7 linked regions of the Homo sapiens genome follow. The protein of the gene in region 4 interacts with the protein of the main gene of each other region in a biochemical or structural test. Each region holds a gene or a part of one and is shown on either strand. Other genes may lie near its edges.

Region 1 (3,500 bases), on a different chromosome or scaffold from region 4:
GAGAGTGGAGCCCTCAGGAATGGAATTAGTGCCTTTTAAAAAGATGCTAAAGAGCTATCTTCCCGCCATGTGAAAATACAAGTCAGCAGTTTAAAACTCAGAAGGGGGCCCTCACCAGCACTGGATCATGTTGGCACCTAGATCTTGGATTTCCAGCCTTCAGAACTGTAAGAAATGAATTTCTGTTGTTTATAAAATGCCCAAGCTGTGGTAATTTGTAATAACAGCCTGAACTGACTAAATCTCCAAAAGACATCCCACAAAAGTATTTTTATAAAGAAGATAATTTTACCACAAAAAGTACAATGTCTTTTGTTCTGGAACGTTCTGCGCTGCCCGCCTAACTCAGTGGCTTTAGAAATATATTAAAAATTCAATTTATGAGAAATTCATAATGGATATATAAATAGGTTATTTCTCATTTTATATAATAAATTCATTTACCTTTGCTGAATAACACTTATGAACTCTACAAAAAAGCACATTTTAGAAGCAATATGATAAATATATAAAAATCAAAATAATTTATCATAATCTCTAATCAATTCTTAATGGATCAAAACAGATCACAAGACATTACAACCATGTTTAGGACTTTAAAGGCCATTTTAAACTGAGTATTGTCTAAAGGGTTATTAGGAAGGTAACATTTGTCAATATTTTCAAATTGTCAATAAGCTTTAAAAAATATCTATATTTTCTAAGTATGCCTCATTGCTGCCTCATTCCTTCTTAAGTATGCTTAAAGAGTTAAGAGCCTGGGCCCTGGAGTTTGATTGTCTAATCTGAGTCCCAACTCTATAATCGTGTTTTGTTTTGTTTTGTTTTGTTTTTATTTTTATTTATTTGTGTGTTTTTAGAAGGAGTCTTGCTTTGTCGCCCAGGCTGGACAGCAATGGCACGATCTCAGCTCACTGCAACCTCTGCCTCCTGGGTTCAAGCGATTCTCCTGTCTAACCTTCCCGAGTAGCTGGGATTACAGGCACCTGCCACCATGCCCAGCTAATTTTTGTATTTTTAGTAGAGATGGGGTTTCACCATGCTGGACAGACTGGTCTTGAACTCCCAACCTCAGGCGATCCGCCCGCCTTGGCCTCCCAAAGTGCTGGGATTATAGGTGTGAGCCACCGCCCCTGGCCAAACTCTACAATCTTTTGTGAGTTATTTAACTTTTCAGTGATTCTTTATCTCTTCAGTGACAAACAGTATCAGCTTCATTGGGTTAGATAAAATGAGGTAACACAAAGAAATCACTTGGGAGATGTTGGGATCAGAGAAAACACGCAGTAAATGTAAGCTGCCAATATTACTCTGATGTTACATCTTCCTCATTGCTAAATTCCGGAGCTATTTTAAATAAACCTAGTCGACTTACTAAACAATAATGCTTTTAAAACCTGTGCCCATTCTTCCATAATGTTAACGTATTTTTGGAAGTAGGAAAACAACAACATAAAACAGTTTTGATTTTTGATTGCATATGACTACATCTAGCTACTACTTCCTAAGAATGATTGTCTCTGGTGGAAAAAACGTTCCCTTTGGCAAACAAAAATAAAGTTATTTTTGTTTTGTACCACATTACTATTTAGCAAGATGATACTTGGCAAAAACAGAATCTATCTGAAAGGCTGAAAATGTATGAGATGGTGCTGGTAATTCATCAGTATTTGTTTGAGATCCAAAAGCCAGCATGAGGTCAACTAATTGTCATGCAAGGGTACTAAAAGCTATTCAAGAGAATTAGAAATCTAATTCCAGAAGCTGACAGGGGAACACAATGTGGTAACTTGGAAGGGAACAGAAATGGATGGAATCGGACTAGGACAGTTCAGATAAATTTTCTTAAATAATTTGCTTATTGCCTTGCTATTTTATGCTGGCACATTGCCCCTCAGGCAGCATCTTTTTTTAGGATGTCATTTCGTTGGAATTTTTTTTTTCTTTATGATTTCTTCAAAACCTCTAATAGTTAACCTGGAATCTCTAAATTAATCTAATTGTCAGTATACAAACTTTGTTATTTTCATCGCATGTTATTTGCTTGAGAAATGCTAGACATCAATATTACATCTAATGCTGATGTGTATATCCAGTCCCCACTCATTAGCTAATACACAAAATATTTATTGAGCACCTGTGAAACGTCAGGAAAGGCTTTAGATTCAAAGGTTATGGCAGTTAACAAAAAAGGTAAAAATATCTTGTCTCATAGAGCCACTAGTGGGAGAGGGCCAACAATAAACATGAAAAAGCAAATTGTGTTGTGTTTAGAGGTGATAATTGTGGGGAGAAAAATAAATCAGAAAGGGAGCTAATATTTTAGCAGGTAGAATAAAATGTAAATAGTGTGACTAGGGAAAAGATGATATTTGAGTAAAAATCTTGAAGAAGGCAAGAGAGGTCTGGGAGAAGACCATTACAGGCAGAAGTAGCTACAAGCACTTCCCTGAGACAGTTAATGCTTGATGCGGCTAAGGAAGAGCAGGGAAGCCAGTTTAGCTGGAATTCAGGGAGGGGGAGAAAATGGGGCCACAGAGGTAACTAGCTGGGAGGAGGGATCATGTAGGACTTTATAAATAACTGTACTATGGCTTTGACCTTTCATTGGGATGACTTGGCAATCATTGGAGATTTTTGAAGACTAGTACAAAAGGTCTGATTCATATTTTATAAAATCCCTCTGGTCATTGTGTTGAAAACAGATTGAAGAAGAGACAATGACCAGTGAGGGGATTATTGCAATGATCCACCTAGATGATAATGGTTTGGATCATGTTAGATTCTGGGTATGTTCTGAAGGCAGACTTCGAGAATTTGCTAATGGAAGAGAAAAATATATAACAATCTTAAATATTCTTAGTCACAAGAAACATGGATAGATAAACAAACAAATAAATATACATATAGATAACAGTGAAAATGCAAGTCCCAGTGCTTACAAGACATCATGGGGAAATCTTAAATACAAAATGTTAAATAAAATAATAGTCTGCAGATTCAGCTTTATAGCAAACTAAGTCCTAGAAAAAGAGAGGAGATGTCAAACAGACATAGTGTATGTGAGGTTTCACAAACATTTGGCATGTTTATTTTTTTAAATCTGGAATACTAGGTACATGGGTGTTCATAATAATATTCTTATACCTTTTGAATGTCTGAAATATTTTCTAATAAATAAAAAATAAAATGCATCACAAAAAGGCAAAAAAACTCCTCCATGATTGGTACCAATAATTAAAGCTTTTTGTTTGTATATTTTTCACTGCTTCCTTGCTGTGTTTCAGGGCAGCATTTGGTCTACATTACATAAGCTTCCCCTATCCCCTACTTACTAATATTTTAGGACTAATATTTTCTCTAGGCAGAAAGTAATCATTTTTCCATTTCTATGATGAATGTATTGAATTTAGCTTTTTTGAATATCCACCCAGTTACTCAATGTATTGAATAATCTATCTTTTTACTCACTAATTTAAAATAACTCCTTTATCAAACAC
Region 2 (3,500 bases), on a different chromosome or scaffold from region 4:
AATAATAAATCTAAATAACAAATTTTTGAAAAAGATATTTTCAAATTCAAGGAGTAAAACATTTGGCCAGGCATGGTGGCTCACACCTGTAACACCAGCACTTTGGGAGGCTGAGGTGGGTGGATCACTTGAGGCCAGGAATTCAAGACTGAACTCCAGTCTGACCAACATGGCAAAACCCTGTTTCTACTAAAAATACAAAAAATTAGCCAGGTGTGGTGGTGCACACCTATAATTCCAGCTGCTCAGGAGGCTGAGGCAGGAGAATTGCTTGAACCCGGGAGCTGGAGGTTGCAGTGAGCCAAGATCGTGCCACTGCACTCCAGCCTGGGTGACAGAGTGAGACTCTGTCTCAAAACAATAAATAAATAAAAATAAAAATAAAAATTTTGACAGCAATTTTTTTTCTTCTATAAATTGATCTTCTAAAAAACCCAGTATCTTAGAATCAAATGTGATCTGGAAATGTACTTACGAGTCTGCGGATTCTGAAAGGCCACAGCTTTGTCAATCTTTAGCTGAGGCTGAAGGTCAGCTACTTCCCAACGACGAAATTCTGGTGCTGTGGTGACATTGAGCAGGAACTCCATTAGAATATCACTACAGAAGACATCGAGATAAGAATTATGAGTCAAAAATGTAAAGCCAACATTTGAGATTCTACATAGCTGTAATGCTCTCAATGTGAAACTTTAGGTCTTGTGGTAAGCAGTGTTTTTGAGCAGTTTATGAACAATAATCCAAAATGGAAGTCAGAGGTCATAATGACGCATTACAAAGACCAGAAGTGAGCAGCTTAGTATTTCTTTCAAAGCAGAAGTCCTAAACACACACAGGTACTTACACATCACCCCGCAGGCATTCCACAGTATAAGCCATGTTTTCCCTTGTTGCGGTCACACTGAATCGGAAAATAAACTAGAGTAAATCATCTGAATCAGGATAGTAAGCTTTCCCTTATAATCTTCTATCAACCAATTCCTTTGGAAAGAAAATTTCTGAAGTATAAAAGGTGCGAACAATAATATAACAAAACTCCACATATTAACCAACTAAAATTCAAAATTTTTTTAAAAACCAGCAAATAATTCAACCTTAAAAGGAGTGAAATCTGGTCACATGTTACAACACAGATGAACCCTGAGGACATTATGCTAAGGATAATAAGCCAGTCACAAAGGGACAAATATTGTATGATTCTACTTATGAGGTACCTGGAGTAGTCAAATTTGTAGAGACTGAAAAGAGAATGGCAGTTGCCAAAGGCTGAGGGGAGGGGAGAATGAGCAGCCATTGTTTAACAGGTACAGAATTTCAGGTGGGAGAAGATAGAAAAGTTCCGGAGCTGAATGTTGGTGATGGTTGCTGAATGCCACTTAACTGCACACTTAAGAAAATGATAAATTTGGGCCGGGCGCAGTGGCTCACACCTGTAATCCCAGCACTTTGGGAGGCCGAGGTGGGCGGATCACTTGAGGTCAGGAGTTTGAGACCAGCCTGGCCAACAGGGTGAAACCATGGTCTCTACTGAAAATACAAAAATTAGCCAAGCATGGTGGCGCACGCCTGTAATCCCAGCTACCACGGAGGCTGAGGCAGGAGAATCGCTTGAACCCAAGAGGCGGAGGTTACAGTGAGCCAAGATCATGCCACTGCACTCCAGCCTGGGCGACACAGCGAGACTGTCTAAAATATATATATATATATATATATATATATATATATATATATATAAATTTTATGTTATATACATTTGACCACAATTTTTTAAAATGGCAAATAAAGTTGAAGATCTTTTCGTACCCTTCCAAGACCAATTCCCTCACTCTCTCCCACTCTGGAAACCACAATCATAAGCACTACATAGTATTTTTCTGCTTAAAAAATTAAAATACCTTAAAGAAATCTTGAAACTTGCTTGTTCACACTCTATTTTGCCCTTCAGTTGTGCTATGTTGACGTATGGATCTAGTTCATTCCGTAATGGCTGTATAGTGGTCTCATCATGACTCTGTCATACTTTACCCATTTCCCTAAAGATGGACACTTAGATCGTTTCCAGTCTTTATAAAGAATACCTTTGTGAATGTGATTAAAAACTGTGGGGTTTTTCAATATTACCAGATATTCCTTGATTCTTTCCTAAGTGGTTGTATCAATTTATACTCCTATCAGCAGAATGAGACATTCTCTATCATCTTTACCACTGACAACACAATATATAAAAAATCTGGGCTGGGTGCAGTGGCTCACATCTGCAATCCCAGCATGCTGGGCTGAGGTGAGAGGATCACCTGAGGCCAGGAGTTCAAGACCAGTCTGGGCAACATAGTGAGACCTCCATTTGTACAAAAAATAAAAAATTAGCCAGGCATGGAGTCATGTGCCTATAGTCCTAGCTACTTGGGAAGCGGAGGGAGAAGAATCGCTTGGGCCCAGGAGTTCAAGGCTGCAATAAGGTATGTCTGCACCACTCCACTCCAGCCTGGGAAACAGAGCAAGACCCTGTCTTTAATATAAATTAATTAAAAAAAAAGAAATGCTGTTTCTGTCCTGAGTGTTCCACTGACCAGCTGCTCCCCAAGTCTTTCTCCCTCTCTTTGGATATTCCTACTCCTGAGACACAACAATATTGAAATTAAGCTAATGAATAACCCGACAATGGCCCCTAAGTATACAAGTGAAAGGAAGAGTCTCATGTCTCTCACTTTAAATCAGAAGCTAGAAAGGATTAAGCTTCTAAGGAAGTCAGGAAGGCATGTTAAAAACGGATACAGGTCAAAAGCTAGGCCTCTTGCACCAGTGCAGTTCTTGAAGAAAACTAATAGTGCTACTCCACTGAACACATAAATGATATGAAAGCAAGACAGACTTATTGCTGATAATACAGAGTTTTACTGGTCTGGATTAGATCAAACTGTATTCCCTTAAGTCAAAGCTTAATCCAGAGCAATGCCCTAACTCTCTTCAATTATATGAAGGCTGAGAGAGGTGAGATGCAGAAGAAAAGTCTGAAGCTAGCCGTGGTTAGTTCATGAGCTTTAAGGAAAGAAGCCATCTTCTTAATATAATAGTACACAGTGAAGCAGCAAATGCTAATATAGAAGCTGCAGCACGTTATCCAGAAGATCTACATAAGATCATCGATGAAGGTGGCTACACTAAACCACAGATTTTCAATGCTGACAAAACAGCCTTACATTGGAAGATGCCGTCCAGGACATTCGTAGCTAGAGAAGTCAATGCCTGGCGTCAAAGCTTCAAACGACAAGCTGACTCTTGTTGGGGACTAATGCAGCTGGTGACTTTAGGATGAGGTCATTTACCATTCTCAAAATCCTAGAGCCCTTAGGAATTATGCTAAATCTACTCTGCCTATGCTCTGTAAATGAACAAAAAAGCCTGGATGATAGTACATCTGTTTATAGCATGGTTGACTGAATATTTTAAGCCCATTGCTCAGAAAAAAGATTCCTTTCAAATTATTACTGCAACAATGC
Region 3 (3,500 bases), on a different chromosome or scaffold from region 4:
CCGGGCAGTCCAGGAGAAGTGCATTTATGTCAGCTTGGGGAGGTCGCAAATCCGTGCTGTGTCCAAGCCCACCAGGAATGGATTCAGGTGTTTATGGGTGTGGGGATTCACCAGGTTTAACCCAGGCCCGTGTGAGCACCACTGGCCCTAGAATTAGCCTCACCTGGCGCCGGCCTTTTTGTGATGGCTCCTGATTAAATACCCACTAATTCTGGATCTGCTGGTGACCACAGAGTTCACCTGATGGGTCCCCTACAGGCAGCATTCAATCCAGGAAGTGCCAGCATCACATGGTGACTTCTGGTAGCTGTAACGTTTAGTGACTCTCTCCATGTCATGCAGAGGGGTGACATTGAGACCCTCTTATGCCTGGGAAGTTCCTGCTGTCAATGCAGAATATTCTTTAAAAAAAAATTAGAGATGGGATCTCACTGTGTTGCCCAGGCTGGTCTCAAACTCCTATCCTCAAGTGATTCTCCCACCTTGGCCTCCTAAAATGCTGGGATTACAGGCACGAGCCATTGTGCCCAGCCTAGAATATTCCTTTTTTTTTTTTTTGAGACGGAGTTTCACTCTTGTTGCCCAGGCTGGAGTGCAATGGCGCGATCTTGGCTCACTACAACCTCTGCCTCCCAGGTTCAAGCAATTCTCCTGCCTCAGCCTCCCGAGTAGCTGGGATTACAGGCATGCACCACCACGCCTGGCTAATTTTGTATTTTTAGTAGAGACAGGGTTTCTCCATGTTGAGGCTGGTCTCGAATTCCTGACCTCAGGTGATCCACTCGCCTCGGCCTCCCAAAATGCTGGGAGTACAGGCGTGAGCCACTGCGCCCAGCCTAGAATATTCTTGAATTAATTTATCTTATTTTTTATTTTTATTTTTTTGAGACAGAGTCTCACTGTGTCACCCAGGCTGGAGTGCAGTGGCATGATCTTGGCTCACTGCAACCTCCACCTCCCAGATTCAAGCGATTCTCGTGCCTTAGCCTCCCAAGTAGCTGGGACTACAGGTGTATGCCACCACGCCTGGCTAATTTTTGTATTTTTAATAGAAATGGGGTTTCACTATGTTGGCCAGGCTAGTCTCGAACTCCTGACCTCAAGTGAAGTCCCACCTCAGTCTCCCAAAGTGCTGGAATTACAGGCGTGAGCTTCTGCGCCCAGACTATTCTCGAACAATTTAACCTGTTTTGGACTCAAGGGTACCTGGGTGGCTCTGGTTCCCGCCCTGGTTTCCCTGGGAGTGCTTGTGGCCATTGGGATACTCCCAAGAAGGTGATCCAAGGAGCTGAGAAGGGGAGGGATCAGCTGCTCATGGGGCCATGGCCTGTTGCCTCCAGGAGGAGCTCGCAGCCCTCATCTCTGAGCTGAAGCAGGAGCAGAAAAAGGTGGATGAGCTCATCGCCAAACTGGTGAACAACCGGACCCGAATCGTCGTGAGTGCCCCTTCCCTCTGCCCCTGCCTGGGACCGGCCACCTTCACTTTCCTGTAGAACTCAGTTCTCATTGGTCCTTTACAGAAAACCATGCCTTCCATATAAAGCCAGAACTCAAAGCATTCCCAGGGCGGGGTGGGGAAAGCGCAAATCCTCTCAGGGGAATTCAACCCAGTTGTCGTTAGGACTGGCTCCAAGTTGGCTTTTGCCCTCTGTGTCCTTGAGACTGAGATAACCCAGGACTTGAGTCTCAGGGGGTAAACAGCTCAAAGCATGGGCATGACTCCTCCGCCCCTGTGCCACCTGTGTCTGCTTGACCTTGCCAGCCTGTCATGGTGCCCTCCCAGTACCTGGGTGCTCAGGCGTGGAGAGGCTGGCAGCCCTGGGCCCTGGCTGATCTCCCGAAGTGAGAGGCACATGGGGCTGGGAGCCATAGTGCCCCGGCCCTGGAGGTGGCTGTGAAACAGAAACAGGAGCCGGGCAAGATCCAGGAGCACTCAGCCTCCCTCATTTACCCTCCTCACCCTTGCGCGGCAGGCGGTACCAGCCCTGCCTGGTGGAGGCGGAGCTCAGGGTTCTGCAGGGAGTTCTGGCTCCCTCACAGCAAAGCCTGCTCGCCTAGGGCCTTCCTGCTTTCCTTCAGTTGTGGAACTCTGGGATATGCACATTTAATAGCTGAAATAGGCAAAGTGGGGTGTGGTGGCGTGCATCTGTAATCCCAGCAACTCGGGAGGCTGAGGCGGGAGGATTGCTTGAGGCTGGGAGGTCAAGGCTACAGTGAGCTATGATCATGCCACTGTGCTCCAGCCTGGGCAACAGAGTGAGACCCTGTCTCTTAAAAAAAAAAATTAAAACAGGCCAAAACAGAGCCTCTCCATTTGAAACGGGAGCTGGGGTCACCCTCCCCACGGCCACCGCCAGGGCTCCCCATGCATGGGGTGAACTCCCTGCCCGGCGCCAGGCCATGCAGCCTCCCCTGAGACTCAGGTCCCAGGACCAACCCGGTCAGGAAGGCCCTGGGGACACCGAGGCCAGCCAGACAGAGCCTGGCAGCTCGGCTGTGACTCTGCAGTGACCAGCCCTCCCTGTCCCAGAATGAGTCGGATGTCTTCAGCTGGGTGATCCGCCGCGAGTTCCAGGAGCTGCACCACCTGGTGGATGAGGAGAAGGCCCGCTGCCTGGAGGGGATAGGGGGTCACACCCGTGGCCTGGTGGCCTCCCTGGACATGCAGCTGGAGCAGGCCCAGGGAACCCGGGAGCGGCTGGCCCAAGCCGAGTGTGTGCTGGAACAGTTCGGCAATGAGGACCACCACAAGTTCATCCGGGTGAGTGGACAGGGAGGCGTCCCATCCCCATACCCGCCAGGGCCTTCCCCTTCCCAACAGTGCCCTAGCTTCCCACCTTCTAGCCTTAACCTCCCTCTCTCTTGCCTTCCAGAAGTTCCACTCCATGGCCTCCAGGTAATAACCTTGGAGAGAGCTCAGCCAGGGTCTGGTGGCTGCGGGCACGGGCATCTCAGCTCCACTGGTTCCTCCATTCGGTTTAACCAGCGCCTCCCAAGCAGCTGCCCACAGCTGGCTCTATAACTGAGCCTGGGAAAAACAGAGGAAAGTCATGTCCCTGCCTTCAAGGGTCTCGTAGATGGGTGGGGAGGCAGATGGTGAACTGTGGGTACCTAGAACAGCAGAAGTTCACTCAAGCTACAGAAATACTAGAGGAGGGTAGCTCATGCCTGCAATCCCAGTACTTTGGGAAGCCAAGGCAGGAGGATTGCTTGAGGCCAGGAGTTCGAGACCAGCCTGGCCAATGTAGTAAGACCCCATCTCTACAAAAAATACAAAAATAAAAAAATTAGTTGGGCATGGTGTCATGTGCCTATAGTCCCCGCTACTCATGAGGCTGAGGCGGGAGGATTGCTTGAGCCCAGAAGTTTGATGCTGCAGTGAGTCGTGACCATGCTACTGCATGATCCAGCCTGGGTGACGGAGCGAGACCCTGTCTCAGAAAACAAAACAGAATGCTAGAGGAGGAGCAGGTGTCTGGGGGACCTGGCAGAGGGGCACA
Region 4 (3,500 bases):
CCACCCCAGTAGAGAAGCCCCAGCATCACCTGCACTCATCCTACTTGTTTTCCATTTCTCTCCATTTTTTGAGTGGAAATGCATGTATAGGCCCATTTGTGGAGAATTGATGTCTTTTTCTTTGGGAGACAATATTGAATCTTCCAGTCAATGATCACAGTATATTCCTCCATTCATTTTTATCTTTAATTTCTCCTAAGAACACTGTGTACTTGTATGAGAAAAAGTCTTATACCACTCTCATTAAATGTATTCCTAGGCATTTAAAGTGTGTTAAAGCTACAGAAATTGGATTGTTTTTCAAATTTCATTTTCTAATTATTTGTTCCTGGTGTAAAAATATACAGTTCGTTTTATATTCTGAGCTTAAAAAATTTATTTTTAATTCTTGTGGGTATGTAGTAGGTGTATATATCTATGGGGTAGATGAGATATTTTGATACAGGTACGCACTGCATAATAATCACATCAAAGTAAATGGGGTATCCATCACCTCAAGCATTTATCCTTTGTGTTACAAACAATCCAATTAAATCTTTTTAGTTATTTTTAAATGTACAATTACATCATTATTGACTATAGTCACCCTAGTGTGCTATCAAATACTAGGTCTTATTCATTCTTTCTATTTTTTTTTGCAAAACTACGGAAGACTTCACAAATTTGTGTGTCATTCTTGCACAGAGGCCATGCTAATCTTCTCTGTATCATTCCAATTTTAGTATCTGTGCTGCCTAAGCGAGTACGTATTCTGAACTTTTAAATTCACTCATTAATTCTAAGTTTAGCCATACATTCTTTTGGATTTTCTATATACATAATCATATCATCTGTGAAAATGACAGTTTTATTTCTTACTTTCTAAACTTTATGCCTTTCATTTCTCTTATTTGCCTTATTGGACTGGCCAGACCTCCCTTACAAAGTTGATGGGGTGATTACACAGACCATCCTTATCTCCTTGATACTCTCACTCGCTTCATTTCTGATGCCTGAGGTTGTCCTTACTTTCCTGTGACTGCACCTGAGCATTTCAAAGGAGTTTGAAGCTGGAAGCTTGTCTGGTCACCTGCTGGACCCCAGCCTCCCTGCAGCATCCCTCCTTTTGCACATGCCTCATTTTGCGGGGCTCTGCCTGAGTTAAAGGCAGGGTTCAGCCTGATGGGGCATATTCTGGTTTCTCCTCTATGTGCTGACAGAGAGGGGAAGGAAACTCACAGATCCTGCAGCAGCCATGCCCTGTGCACACCACCACATTATCTTGTTCCACCTCATTCACTTCTCACAGTGGCCTTGGGAGGAGGTAGGTGCTGCGATCACACCCATTTGACAGACGAGGAAACAGGCTCAGAAAAGGGAGGTCTTTGGCGAAAGCAGCGTCTACCAAGAGCTGGAAGCAGACCCCAGGCCTTTTAGCGTTTTCTACCCTGTGCTTGAGGCCCCATCGAGCGGGTTATGTTTTTCACATTCCTCATCTAAGTCTCCTTTCTCAGTACTGGGCTGACACGGGCAAGAACAGGTGCCAAAGTGAGAAGGGACGCACCATCAAGCTGGTGGGCTCCCTGCGCTGCCTCAGGGCTCAGCCCTCCGGGGCACCTTCTGCTCCTTCCTCAGGCCTCGTCTGAGCCTGCACATGCCCCCGCCTGCCCTTGAAGAAGGGCTCTCCTACCACCCCAACCTCTGCGGCTCCAGCTTAGCCTAGTGTTAGCAGAAGAGGCTCAGGGGTCAGCCAGGCCTCAGTAGAGATCCTGGCTCTGCCATTCGCCAGCTGTGGGAACTTCGCTCTCCTCCCCAACCTCACACCCATGGAAAGTGAGACCTGACCCAGCGGCCCACGCGCCCTCCCATCCTCAGCGGCAGCGGGAGAAAAGACGGGAGAAGGTCTGGTCCCCGCAGGTGGCAGAGGCCACTTTCCCCACTCTGCTCCAGCCAGGTCTTTTTCATGAGGGGAGGGTCTGATTAGGGTTCAGCCTGGGTATGAGTGGCCTGAGTCAAGGTCAGGACTCAGTCTGGGCCAGCGTCAGGGCTCAGCCAGAACCGGAAACAGGGCTCAGTCTACGGGAGGTTTCTCAGCCTTCGCACTATGGGTATTTTTTGCCAGATGATTCCTGTGGTGGGGGCTTCTCTTCTGCATTGTAGGAAGCTGAGCAGCATCCTTGGCCTCTAACCACCAGATGCCAGGAGCATCTGTGGCCAACAAAAATGACTCCAAACATTGCCAAACGTGCCCTAGGGGAACCATATCGCCCCCAACAGAGAACCATTGCTCTATAGTCAGGAGGGGACTCAACCTGGGTCAGGGGTGGGGCTCAACCTGAGTTAGGGGAGGGGGTTCAACCTGGGTCTGGGCCAGGCTCAGCCTGAGTTAAGGGCGGGGCTCAGACTGACTTAAGGGCTGGGCGCAGACTGAGTCGGAGGTGGGGCTCAACCTGGTTCCGGGCCGGATCCTGTAGAGTTGAGGGCGGGGCTCAGCCTGGCTCCGGGCCGGATACTGCTGAGTTGAGGGCGGGGCTCAGCCTGAGTCAGTGTTGCTGGTCAACTTGGGCCTATGGAAGCCTGACAGCGTTCCCACCTGCAGCTGTAACCATTGAGAAAGGTCCCAGTTGCCAACTACCGTGCTCCGCCAGACCAGGGCTGGGCTCTCTTTGCTTGCCAGCAGCTGATAAATAACAAATCAAATAGCAGTTAAGCCAGGAATCATTTCCAGGTCCCCTGGGGTTGGGTCCTCAGCAGCTCCGCTCATCCGCCTTCCACCTCCAGTTCACATCAGCCACCACGGATTCAGGCGACACCCCATTAAGTATAATGCCTCCCATTACGGTTTCCTAATACGCACTTCATTTAGATTCAACAAGATGTTTCTGAGCTAATAAAATCAAAAAGACTGGGTTCTATCAACTGTGTGACAGTGAACGTCTCTGGTATTTCAGGAGGGCAATTCTGGAATTAAAATACGTCTTATCCTGTGCAGATTAGATTCTGTCCCTGGAAAATCCCTCTCTATCTCCAGCTGTCTTGGGAAGACCAGAGATAAGCTTGCTAGCTCCAGGTTTATGAATCCTAAGAGAAAAGTGGGGGAGGGAGAAGGATTATCTCTTAAGGAAAGGATAAGGAAGCCAAAGCCCAAGTTCACCAAATTCAGAGCAGTGGAATCCCAGAGTGGATGTGGAGCTGTGAGCCCTAATTGTAAAAACAAGTCAGAAATTCAGACGGAGGAACAACGGCACCCCCAAGAGCTGGATGCTGAAGCACAGGGTGCCCGATGTTGGCTGGCGAAGGGGGGGACCCATGCCCTGGGTCTCCGTGGTGCCCTCCAAGTTTGTCTCTGACACTGCCTGTCTTCCCTTTCCTCACCCCAATATTCAGATTTTGCTCCAGTGCACTACCGGGTGCTAAAGTGGGTTACAGTGACAGCTTAGGGACAGCGGAGGTGCCGGAGTCTGCTGGTCTCAACACCGAGTGGCTGCAACTCCCTTCCTGCTACAATTTTTGGCCGGTTT
Region 5 (3,983 bases), on a different chromosome or scaffold from region 4:
TTCCTCTGAGTGGGACTGAGCACCCTCTCCTTAATTGCATTCTCATTAAACAAGCCCTTAATAAATACACACCAGGGGAAACAGGGTTGTGCAATAGAGCACCCTCACAAGTGATAATTAAACACAGATCACAGCAATTAAGTAAATGGGGGAACAAGGAAGGAGTGGGCAGGACAGAGATATTACCAGTTACATGCTTAGGAAGAGATTGGAAAGCACATAAACCTCAATGGCAATAATATAGCCTTGGAAACTGCTTCTCAGTTTAAGAAAAGGGTATTTTGTTAGGTTATCAAAAATCACTTTGGTCTCAGTCTGTGAGACTGGGTTTGATACGGGGAGAGGGGAAGAGGACTCCTGGGAGTTCACTGCTCTGTACCCAGTCTCCGAAGCTGTGAAAAGAGCCGCTCTAGGCCCCTCAAGTCTTTATCCTTCCACACTCATGCCCCAGAGCCTCACTTATTCTTCAGCCCTAAGCACAATCACTATTTACCTTCCCCCTCACCAGACTTGAGTTAAGTGGGAAGCAGCGTGGTGTGACAGAGCCCAAGAAACTTAGATTCTGTCCCACTTGGCCATCAATTGGCCATGAGCCCCTAGACAAGTCACCATCCCTCTCTGGACCATGACTTCCTCATCCCTAGGAGAGTTCTGTGCTCTGCTTCCCAGAGTTGCTGCCAACTCTGATGTTCCCAGGGAACACCTCCAGTTGGCTGTCCAGTCGTCTCTGTATCTCCCCCACTGGACTGAGAAGCAAGGATGTCATCTATGTCCCAAGCTCAGACCAATGCCCCTGTGAGGGCTCAGTCAGTATTACCTGGTCAAGGGCCAAAGGGACTTTGGTTGGAGTCCCTCTGCAGACCAGAGGGGCAGGGGACAGAGCAGATGAGGCCAGTCCTGGGGCCTGCAGGTCTCCCACCTACAAGTCACTCTGCTTTCTCCTGGGCTCCCAAAGGGTAGCTCAGAAATTCATCTAAACCTATATCAATAGGCCTTAGCCCCTACCTGGTCTATACAGCTGAACAGTCCTTGGAGAAGGTGGGGCTTCCACCTGGAGCAATGTACCAAGACTGTGCCTACAATCCCCCTTACACACGTGCACACACACACACACACACACACACACACATCATTTTCAGGGCCCTCTTGGTTGCCCACAGAGGCCTGGTTCTATGAGTATTCTAACAAACAAGGGACTGGCATCCCACCACCCAGGAAGGTAAGCCAGAGGTGTGAAGTGGGGTAGTTTAATGACTGGCTGAGTTTGAATTCCTCAGTGATCCTTTACCCCTGCCATTGCCACCATGGGGACCTGGGCTGATCTGAGATGGGATGAGGGGAAGTAGCATGGAATGGCGCTGTGCCCACCCTGTGAAAAGGAGCCTCAGGCGTCACTAAGGCCCACTTCATTAAGGTCACTGTGAAACCAGCATGACATCTGTGCCAAGGTACAGGAGAAAACAAGGGTGTCTTCCATCTAGCGGTACAGAGGTAAATAAACATCCCAAGTACAAGAAATACTCTCTCCCCTCTTCACCACCAGGCACCAACCTGCTAGATCTGCACACAGTTTACATTCGCAGAAACAGTAGCCACTTCCCTTATAGGGTTCTGTCTCCCTGTTTTCAGCAGAAATACCTACACCGTGTGTCTTACCCAATGCAGGGAGCTGCCAAAAGCCAAATCTGACCAATATAAACAGGAAGAGATGCCGTTGCCAGAGATGGAGTCGGCTTACATTAAAGTCTGGCTATGATTTATGAGGAGATTACATCCTGGATGAATAAATATCATTCCCTAATCTCTTGGAGTTTGACACTCAAAACTCTCATGTGCATATTAATAGATATTAATAATGCTTCTTCCTCCGTGTCCTCTGGACATGTCTTCTCTGTCTCCATATTCACTTCAAAAATGAAGAGCCAGGAGCAGGTCAAACAGGTCTTCCCTACGGAATCTCTTTGTAGGAAGAGAGACAAGGCCGTTCCTAAAGGGCCTTGAATGATCCCGCAAGCCCCTCCAGCCCCTTCCAGCTTTCAGGTGCTGCTGTAGGGAAGGCAGTGGCTCCTGAGGGAGGTACAGGGCAGAGGAGCAAAGCAGGAAAAGGGCCCAGGAAGAAGGGGACTCCCCCACCCCCAACTGGTGCATGCCTGGTGCCTGGGAAACAAGCAAACGGCTCTGGGCCGGGATGGAAACCACCATTCCAACAGTCACACGTGCAACCCACCTGGTATCCCCTGCACTCAAGGCACGGACCCCCCTCCTCCAGCATCCTGAACCTCTGAACTCTGGAGACCCGCGCTGCAGCCCCAAGATCCAGCTCCAAATACCTGGAGCCGAAGGTGCCAAGGACAGCAAAAAAACTAATCCTGAGACTGGCGGGCTGATGGGGTAGAGAGGGACGCACACGGTCCCCAGGGAGCACAGCCTATGAACCAGGCAGGAACCAGGCAGGAAGCCGGCGGCCACCATCCTCATTCCGTGCCGCACTCCAAAGCCCACCCCATCCAAGGCATCTTCCTTCTCGAGTGTCCCCTTCTTTGGGGGTGGGGGGAGGCAAGAGAAGAGACCAAGCTGGGGCTGCCTTACCCAAAAGCCCAGTGCCCAGCCATCTCGCCGGGGCTTTGCCTCCGTCCCCAGCCCCGGGCATAGTCCTGTTCTCTCCGGAGCGCGCGGGGGTCGCGGGGATGGGATACTGGGCACAGCCGCGCTCTCCGCCCGAGGTCGGCGTTCGGCCACAAAGCTACCCCGGAGCTCTGCGCCGCCGGTCGGGGCTCGGGAAAGTTAGCGGGCAGAGAGCGAGAGGAGGGGGAGGGAGGGAGCGGAGGGGGAGGCGCGCTCGCCCGCTGCTGGGAGCCGGCTGCTGGAGCAACGGCGGGAGGGAAGGAGTAGGAGGAGCCGGAGCAGGAGCGGGAGGAAGACGGAGCGAGCGCAGCGGCGAGCGAGGCTGCGCCTCTGCTCTGGAAGCGCTCCAGCCGCAGGAGGGGCGGTGGCCGCCGCGTAGGCCGGGGAGCCCCCGCCCGCTGCGCACCCTGCCTGCCGCACCCCGCCTCGCGGTCCCGGAGCCCCGGGACCACGCCGTGCCCCCAACTCCCTCTCCAGTGGGGCTGGGCTGCTGCGGCTGGCACTGCAGGGCCGGCCTGCAGCCACCCGCATCATCCCATGCGCTGAGCTGCCAATTAGGAGCATAGTTCGGGGGGAGTAGAGGTGGAGCTTTTCGGTTGCTGGAAGACTGTTTTGCTTTGCTTGGGGGAACACGGGAAGGTTAGCGGCTCCCTCTCCCAGGACCGCCAAGGGACCGCTTTAAAGTCCGCAGCGGACGCTGCCGCAACGGGTGGGCGTGTGCGGGCTTGCCCACTGCAGCTTGCGCCTCCTCGGTGGCGTGCGACATGGCGCGCGTGCAGCCTCGGGACCCGCTCCCGCCACCTTCTGCCCCATCGCTCAGCAACTCCGGCGGTTGTTTTAGGAAGCCCGGAACAGAGCTTTCCCATTGCAAACTGCCCCGGCCCTCCCTTCCCCCACCCCCACGCCACCCCGCCCCACATTTCTCCATGGACCCCTTGGAAATCACCACGCTCCAGGTTAGGGAGCAGGTTGGTCCGCGCCTGGTCTGTGTCCTGCGCCCCATTTCACCCTCCCGCTGCACCCCTGCTTCTCATTTTTCCTACCTAGGCCGTCCCCCTCAGATGCTGCCTTTTCGCCCTCCTCCAACTCTCCTGTTTTCTTCGGAACGGCAGACTCCCTCGGCCTCCCTTTTGGGGTAGGGGTGGAGGAGTCCAGGGTGACAACCAGGTCAGAGGGCTGAGGCGAGGCTGTGAACGAGTAAGCCTTTTCCCAGACAGGCCCAAGTGAAAGAGTTTCACCTGAGCGGTGCTACTTGGGCTGGTGGTTCTGTAAATGAGTCGATCTCCTCCTCAGCACCTTTCCAACCATCCAAGACCCTCCCTGCATCACAGGCCCTCTTTACTGTCTAGGACTGGTCC
Region 6 (3,500 bases), on a different chromosome or scaffold from region 4:
CACCCTTCAAAGATTATTCATTGCAGCAGCATTTGTAATAACTAAAGACTGAGAATAAAGACTGGTTTAAATAAGTTATGGTACATTTTGTGATATTATGCAAATGCAAAAAGAATGAAGATGCTCTTTATGTACTGATATGGAACCATCTCTAAGATAGATGATTATATGAAAAAAGCAAGGTGTAGACAGTGTGTATAACATGCAACATTCAGGTAAAAACAAAAAAGAATACGTATACAAAATTACTCGTGTATGCGGAGAATGTCTCTGGAAGGACACTTGTGAAATTGGCAAAATGGTTGCCTCTGGGAGGGAATCCAGTGGCTGGGGACGGGGTGGGAGGGGACATTGTATTCCCATTTGTACCTTCTGAGTTCTGTGTAAGCAATATCTGCTCAAAAACATTTAACATTTTAAAAGGCTTTCCAAGGGCTTTTTCAAACTGCATTGCTACCTCCATCCCGTCCCTGGTTTCCATACAGCCCTGTGGCTGGAACTGGATGTATCTCTCAGGCATGTGTTGTGGAAAAGGGTGGGACTCCTGTGACCGAGTCTGGTCTCCCTTTGCACCCCCAGGACAGTCCCATGCCCAGTGCAAGCGGCTGCCCGATGAGCACAGGGAGAAGGAAGGAAGGAACAAGGACCCATCTCATCACCATCAGAGCCTGCCCAGTGCCCCATTGGTCCAGCCTGCCCTCGAGGGCGCCTGCTCATGGGCCTTTTCCAAGTTGACAGCTCCAGCTCCCCAGTCAGCTTCACTAGAGCAGGGCCTTGACATTAGCCTCTGGCTCCCTGACTCCAAGTAGCAGGCACAAAACTCTGCTGGGGACCCTGGACTCCCCTCCATATGGGCAGCCTTGTTCGGCTCAGCCTCACCTCCTCATTGAGGATCTCCTGGCACTCGGAGTAATTCACGCGGGCGGCCCAGCTGCCATTGGCCAGGCACTCCCGGTAGCCATTGTCTGGAAAAGGAAGAGAGAGGCAGTGATGGCGGGGCAGCCCCGGCCCCTGCCTGACCATCCTGGCCCAGATGGATGCGTAGATGGATCTGTAGATGGCCAGTACAGGCACCTGCTGGCTGGGGGTTGTGTAGTGAAGCTGGGGAGAGGGGCTTCCTTACCACCCCCATCTTCCTGCCTCTTTCTGCCCATTGGCCTCCAGCAGGGGTTGGTGGCTCCCCCGGCTCTGCCCACTCAAGCTGGCATGATCATGCCCACAGGACTGGCCCGTGGACAGGCTTGACCAGCTCCCTGGGCTGTTCCTTTGCAAGTCATTATGTGGTGGCAGATGACAGGTAGGTGCTCTTCTGAGAAATCTCCTTTTCAGGGGTCTTGCAAGACAGCAAAAAAATGGTGAGACCTCATGAGTCAATTTTCACGAGGCTGGGCATGACACGGTGGAAGGGTATGCGGTGACAGCTCGCGTGGCAGGTGGCATGACAGGGCTTCTTGTGGTAGAGCCATCTCACAGAGGCTGCCGTGGGAGGTCCTCACTGGCTGTGCTGCACATGGGGGCTCAGAGTTCATGGGGCAGATCTTGGGGAAGGTCCCATGGTGGCACTTCCCCATAGCGGGCCTGTGTTGGAAGGTCGTGGTCTGTGGGTGGGGGGAACATCCATGATGGAGGTCTCTTGGACAGAAAATGACAGGTGACAGGCGTGTGTGGGGAGATGTCATCACTCAGGTCTGTCACAGCTGCTCCTAGCCTGGCCCATGTCACTCAAGGAGGAAGGCAGGAGAGTGGCCCAGGGACATATGGAGGTTTGTGCAGCCACCGGCCTGGACTGTGGCCCAGAACCTGTCACCTTCTAAGGAGATGGGGAGGGGCCCTGTGAGCTGAATTGATGCCTGGCTTTAGGGCCCTGGGATGGGCAGAGCTGCCCAACGTGTTCCCCTTACCCTCCTTCATGCCTACCAGGCTTGAGCTCCAGGGTCCTAAAACCTAGCTGGGAAGGGACAGCATGAGTTCTAAATTCCATCTCATCTTCTCTGCTGGCAGAGGTTGCCCCACCCCACCCTGTACCCGGCTCTGGCATCAGTAGCTCTAAACATGCTTCCTTGAGTTAATTCTGGCTCTGACTTCAGGCAGAACTGCCTGGCAGAGAAATGAAGCCCTGAGTATCTCACCTGGAGCCTCCCTCACTGTAGGCCTTCCTGTGGCTCCCAGTGGCCCTTGGGGCTGGAACAGGGCTGGGAAAGCTGCTGGAGTCCCAGTCCTTGAGTCTGGAGCCCCATGGGGCAGAACCCTGTGAGGATCTAGAGGCTGGGGCCCTGGGACCAGCTGAGCTGCTGCCGTGCTGCATGACTGACCTCTGGGGACCCCTTCTCATTTATAAAAGGAGGGGCTGGACTGGCTGATCCCCAAGGGACCATCCAGCCTGGGAGCTGCCTCTGCTGGCAGCATCAGGACAAGAAGGTGATGATAGGGAGCCCGTCCTGGCCTCCAGGGCTGAAAAGTAGATGTGGCCTCTCCTCTCTCGCACTACTCCCCTCCATTCCCCTCCCTGGTCCCCCTGCTGAGGAGCTGCTCAGCTACAGCTGGCCAGTGGGAGATCCGGCTAAATGGATTTTTAAAGCTCTTCCATGTCAGTGGACCGCAGTCTCAGGGAGCCTCAGGCCCTTGGGCAGAGTTGGTGAAGAGGCTGCTGATTCTCTCCAATTGCCAAATGAGGGATGAGTTACCGGAGGGCTGAGGCTCACCCAGTGGGTTTTCATGGAGGTCTGAGGGGAGGGTGAGACGAGGAACCAGGAGAACCCAGTGTCTCTGCCATGGCTGGGAAGTCCCGGGACCAGAGGCTGCTCTGAAATACCTCCAGGGATAGGGGCTTTGGGACAGAGATCCGGCTGGAAGGGGCCCGGGGGTGGTGGGATGGGGTGGGGTGGTTCTTGAGTTAAGAGGCAGCATGGAGTAGTGCTAAGAGCGTGGCCCCTGGACCCAGACAGCCTAGCATCAAATCCTGGCACTACCTTCCACTAGCTGTGTGACCTTGGGCAAATCCCGAAACCTGTCAGCTTCCTCCTCTGTAAGTGAGAGCATCTGAATAGCAGCTCCTACATCAAGAGTTGAATATTTTTAGTTAACATGCACAAGGTGCTTGGAACTGTACCTGGGATGTGATGTTGGCTGTTATTTTTATTATTATTGTCTTGGAGCTGTATTTATATAACCTTACGTGAGACTCAGAGCGTGTCCCTTGTCCCCATCAAAGGGTACCGGTGGATATTGTGGGAGGAGCCCCTTTGCTCAACACCCTTGCCCCCCTTGACATGTGGGGGAGAGTCAGGAGTCCCATCAGAGGCTGGGTCACCCAGAGGGAGCAGGCTTTGATGGGGAGAAAGGAGGTGATCCGAAAGAAAGCAGGCCCAACAAGCAGGGAGCCGTTGCCAGGGAGGATGCGACCTCCTTGTCTTTAATTGCTGAGCTGAGCAGTCCTCCCAAAGAATCACGGGAAAATAGATATTTTTGGAAATGCTTCCCATCCCTTTGAAGATCAGATG
Region 7 (2,700 bases), on a different chromosome or scaffold from region 4:
GATTAGCAAGCAGGAGTGAGTGATTAGAAACACCATGACAAATTTGCATCTATTACTAAGTATCCGTAAGGAATTCACTAAAATCCTGACATATTTTAAAAGTCAAATTCTGCTTTAGCAATAGCATGGTTGAGCTTGAGGGACTCAAAGCAGTTGCTAATTATAACCAGCATAGAAATCTGCACCAACCAGTTCAGAGTACGGTCAAATCACAGTCTTGCCCCTAGGTTAAATATGAAGGGGTGGAATGGGCAGTTAAATTCACTGACTGTATCTACATGGAAAAAGAAAAATACTGGGGAAAGGCAGCAATTTATTCTTCATAACAACATTCATGTTAACTTTAAATGAAGTGAATGTACAGTCAGCAAAGATAATTGTGAAGATGTGATGGATTTTTGCAGAAGGCTCTTGTTTTCCTTCTCGGAAAAGGCTTGATTCCCGAATACTATGATTCTTTAAATGACCAACTGAATAGTGAAGAGTTAAGAAAGGCAATACACATTTTTGGTGTTTTTATTAATTAAAGACTACAATGCCCATTTCCAGTTTTTTCACGGTGTGCGGAGTAGGTGAGGTCCATCCTCTGCAAAGCATAGGCCACATCTAATTCATTTGAGGAGATGCAAATAGGTCTGATAAAGGGGCAGATAAAAATGAATGCCTTCATGTAAATATTCAATCATAAGATATTTAGGAACGTGCACATCCATGTTAGAATTGAATCTTACTTTAACTGAGCTCAGTTTTGACAGTCAATTGCAGATTTCTGGTTGACCCTAATTTTTATACTCGTATTTCACTGATAATATGTAATAATACCCCTACATATTAAATATACATAAATATCATCTTCATATGCTTTCAGATAATAAAAACTTTTGAAAGGCATGGTAGAATACAGACTTTTATCTACCATTTGTTGGATTAACAAGTAGGAGTGTTGAATGTTGAGAAAAATTATGATGAATTTGCAGCTTTTACTTAGTAACTTCATGGAATTCACAAAAACCATGAAACCTCTTAAAAGTCACATTCTACTTTGAACTCTGGGAAAATCGATTCCTTCTCTCACTGTCAAGTATCAGTTCTGATGACTCCGACATCTCCTCTTCAGGTAATGTTGGCAAAGCTGCAGGCCAGTCTTAGGATGGAAAGGAAGGATGCCATCGCCGTGTTTTGAATTGTCAGCCAAGTGCTCAGTGGAGCTTGGGGAAGGCTTTGCTATACTACAGTTGTATTACTGACCTTCTCAGGACTGGCCAGATTAAAAGAAGCCTGTGGATGACTTGCTGGCCTGGGTGGACGTTGATCAGCCCGCTGGCAACAGAGGAGGAAAAAAGTCAATTTAATGGGTTGAGATCACTGTAAAATGCAAACTTGAAAAGAGAGCTTCACTCATCTGTTAAGATAAAATTAAGGTACGGAGAGGAACAAAAATGTTAAAATAAGCTCTTCCTTTCTTGCATTATTTCTGGTAACACACAATATAGAAGTTTTCCAAGTTCAGGCCCTAAAGGGCAATCCAATTCCAAGAATCAGTATTTGTTTTGACTAAGGCAAATTACCACGACTCATTGTTTTGTTTTGTGTTTCAATTTTCCTAAGGAAGTTCTTGCTTTACTGGCTAGATTTTTTATGAAAATATAAAATATTTCTAAACTTCTTAAAGAGCGTGCATTGTTTCTAGAACAGGGGGACAAAATTGAAGAACTGACTCCAGATAGATCACCCACCTGTCTCTTTTCCCTATCAGGGAGAAACATAGTCTTCCCTGTTCTCATTCAGAAATGTAATCCCAAACAAACCATTTAATCCTCCAGAGTGGCCAATGCCTGTCTCATAATATTGCCTTATTAAAATGTGTGCAACACTTTTTTCCTGCCAGTCCTGAGAATGGCAGCTCAGGTTCCAGGGCACAATAGCTGCACTTAACATCTTAAATAATGTAACTGGGCATGATAAATTATTCACAATGTGATGGAATGCTAGCAAGTCTTGAGGATAGAATTACTCTGGCTCACGCTCTTAATTTGTTGACTCCCAATAACACAGGGAAAACTGGACAGCGGATGGAACTATGTCAGCAGTGCTTTAAGACATGTGCCTTCTGCTGCTAATATGCTAGAGATTCCTACTGTCGTTTGCTTTTGTTTTCACTGCTGGGTTGTGCAAACATCGCTGTTTTCTAAATTTATCAAGTATGTATTTCTGTTTGTCTCAATGAGGGGGTGATTTGTGGGGAAGGCTTGATCCAGGTCTCAAGTTGTTTATATGCCCATCTTCTGAAAATGACAGAGACAGAGAATTTCCTAAAACAGCCAGGAAAATGCACTGACAGTGAGTTAAGGCACAGGACAAAGAGAGGAAAAGGAGGATTCTTTGTTTTAAATATTCGCCAAAATAAAAAACATTTGCAAATCCCCTGGCTTCATATTGAAATAAAAAAGCATGCCTTTCCCAGTAATTGGTTATTTTAGTAGGAATTTCTAATTTTACTTATTACTTTTACCCTAATGTGTTTCAGCTGCAGTTGCACCCAAATTCATTCTGTTTCACCAACAGGGAAACTCTTGTCTAGAAAACCATGTCAGTACTACATATTCTAACTGTAGATTCAGTCATCAGAGAAATAATCAGAGAAGAAAATTGTCATATTGTATATGACAGTTTTGAAAATGAATCTCTTTTTTCCTTCTG

Evidence for each region.
Region 1: the proteins of GRIP2 (region 4) and KCNT2 interact in a test that uses a peptide from one of them, tested with the Homo sapiens proteins (one large-scale study listed by IntAct).
Region 2: the proteins of GRIP2 (region 4) and UQCRC2 interact in a test that uses a peptide from one of them, tested with the Homo sapiens proteins (one large-scale study listed by IntAct).
Region 3: the proteins of GRIP2 (region 4) and TRIM50 interact in a test that uses a peptide from one of them, tested with the Homo sapiens proteins (one large-scale study listed by IntAct).
Region 5: the proteins of GRIP2 (region 4) and SCN4B interact in a test that uses a peptide from one of them, tested with the Homo sapiens proteins (one large-scale study listed by IntAct).
Region 6: the proteins of GRIP2 (region 4) and CRHR1 interact in a test that uses a peptide from one of them, tested with the Homo sapiens proteins (one large-scale study listed by IntAct).
Region 7: the proteins of GRIP2 (region 4) and IGSF5 interact in a test that uses a peptide from one of them, tested with the Homo sapiens proteins (one large-scale study listed by IntAct).

What each region holds. Positions count from the first base shown.
Region 1 is NC_000001.11:196,342,941-196,346,440, forward strand, and holds part of KCNT2 (potassium channel subfamily T member 2), read right to left. Parts: intron 166-3,500; exon of another isoform or gene 116-165; intron 1-115. UniProt on the Homo sapiens protein: Sodium-activated and chloride-activated potassium channel. Produces rapidly activating outward rectifier K(+) currents. Contributes to regulate neuronal excitability.
Region 2 is NC_000016.10:21,959,861-21,963,360, reverse strand, and holds part of UQCRC2 (cytochrome b-c1 complex subunit 2, mitochondrial precursor), read right to left. Parts: intron 902-3,500; coding exon 845-901; intron 601-844; coding exon 476-600; intron 1-475. UniProt on the Homo sapiens protein: Component of the ubiquinol-cytochrome c oxidoreductase, a multisubunit transmembrane complex that is part of the mitochondrial electron transport chain which drives oxidative phosphorylation.
Region 3 is NC_000007.14:73,318,083-73,321,582, reverse strand, and holds part of TRIM50 (E3 ubiquitin-protein ligase TRIM50), read left to right. Parts: intron 1-1,340; coding exon 1,341-1,436; intron 1,437-2,508; exon of another isoform or gene 2,509-2,530; coding exon 2,531-2,761; intron 2,762-2,873; coding exon 2,874-2,896; intron 2,897-3,500. UniProt on the Homo sapiens protein: E3 ubiquitin-protein ligase that ubiquitinates Beclin-1/BECN1 in a 'Lys-63'-dependent manner enhancing its binding to ULK1. In turn, promotes starvation-induced autophagy activation.
Region 4 is NC_000003.12:14,530,343-14,533,842, forward strand, and holds part of GRIP2 (glutamate receptor-interacting protein 2), read right to left. Parts: intron 1-3,500.
Region 5 is NC_000011.10:118,150,024-118,154,006, forward strand, and holds the start of SCN4B (sodium channel regulatory subunit beta-4 isoform 1 precursor), read right to left. Parts: upstream 2,801-3,983; 5' UTR 2,651-2,800; coding exon 2,590-2,650; intron 1-2,589. UniProt on the Homo sapiens protein: Regulatory subunit of multiple voltage-gated sodium (Nav) channels directly mediating the depolarization of excitable membranes.
Region 6 is NC_000017.11:45,818,820-45,822,319, reverse strand, and holds part of CRHR1 (corticotropin-releasing factor receptor 1 isoform 2 precursor), read right to left. Parts: intron 966-3,500; coding exon 880-965; intron 1-879.
Region 7 is NC_000021.9:39,799,882-39,802,581, reverse strand, and holds the end of IGSF5 (immunoglobulin superfamily member 5), read right to left. Parts: intron 1,321-2,700; coding exon 1,225-1,320; 3' UTR 501-1,224; downstream 1-500. UniProt on the Homo sapiens protein: Provides, together with MAGI1, an adhesion machinery at tight junctions, which may regulate the permeability of kidney glomerulus and small intestinal epithelial cells. Mediates calcium-independent homophilic cell adhesion.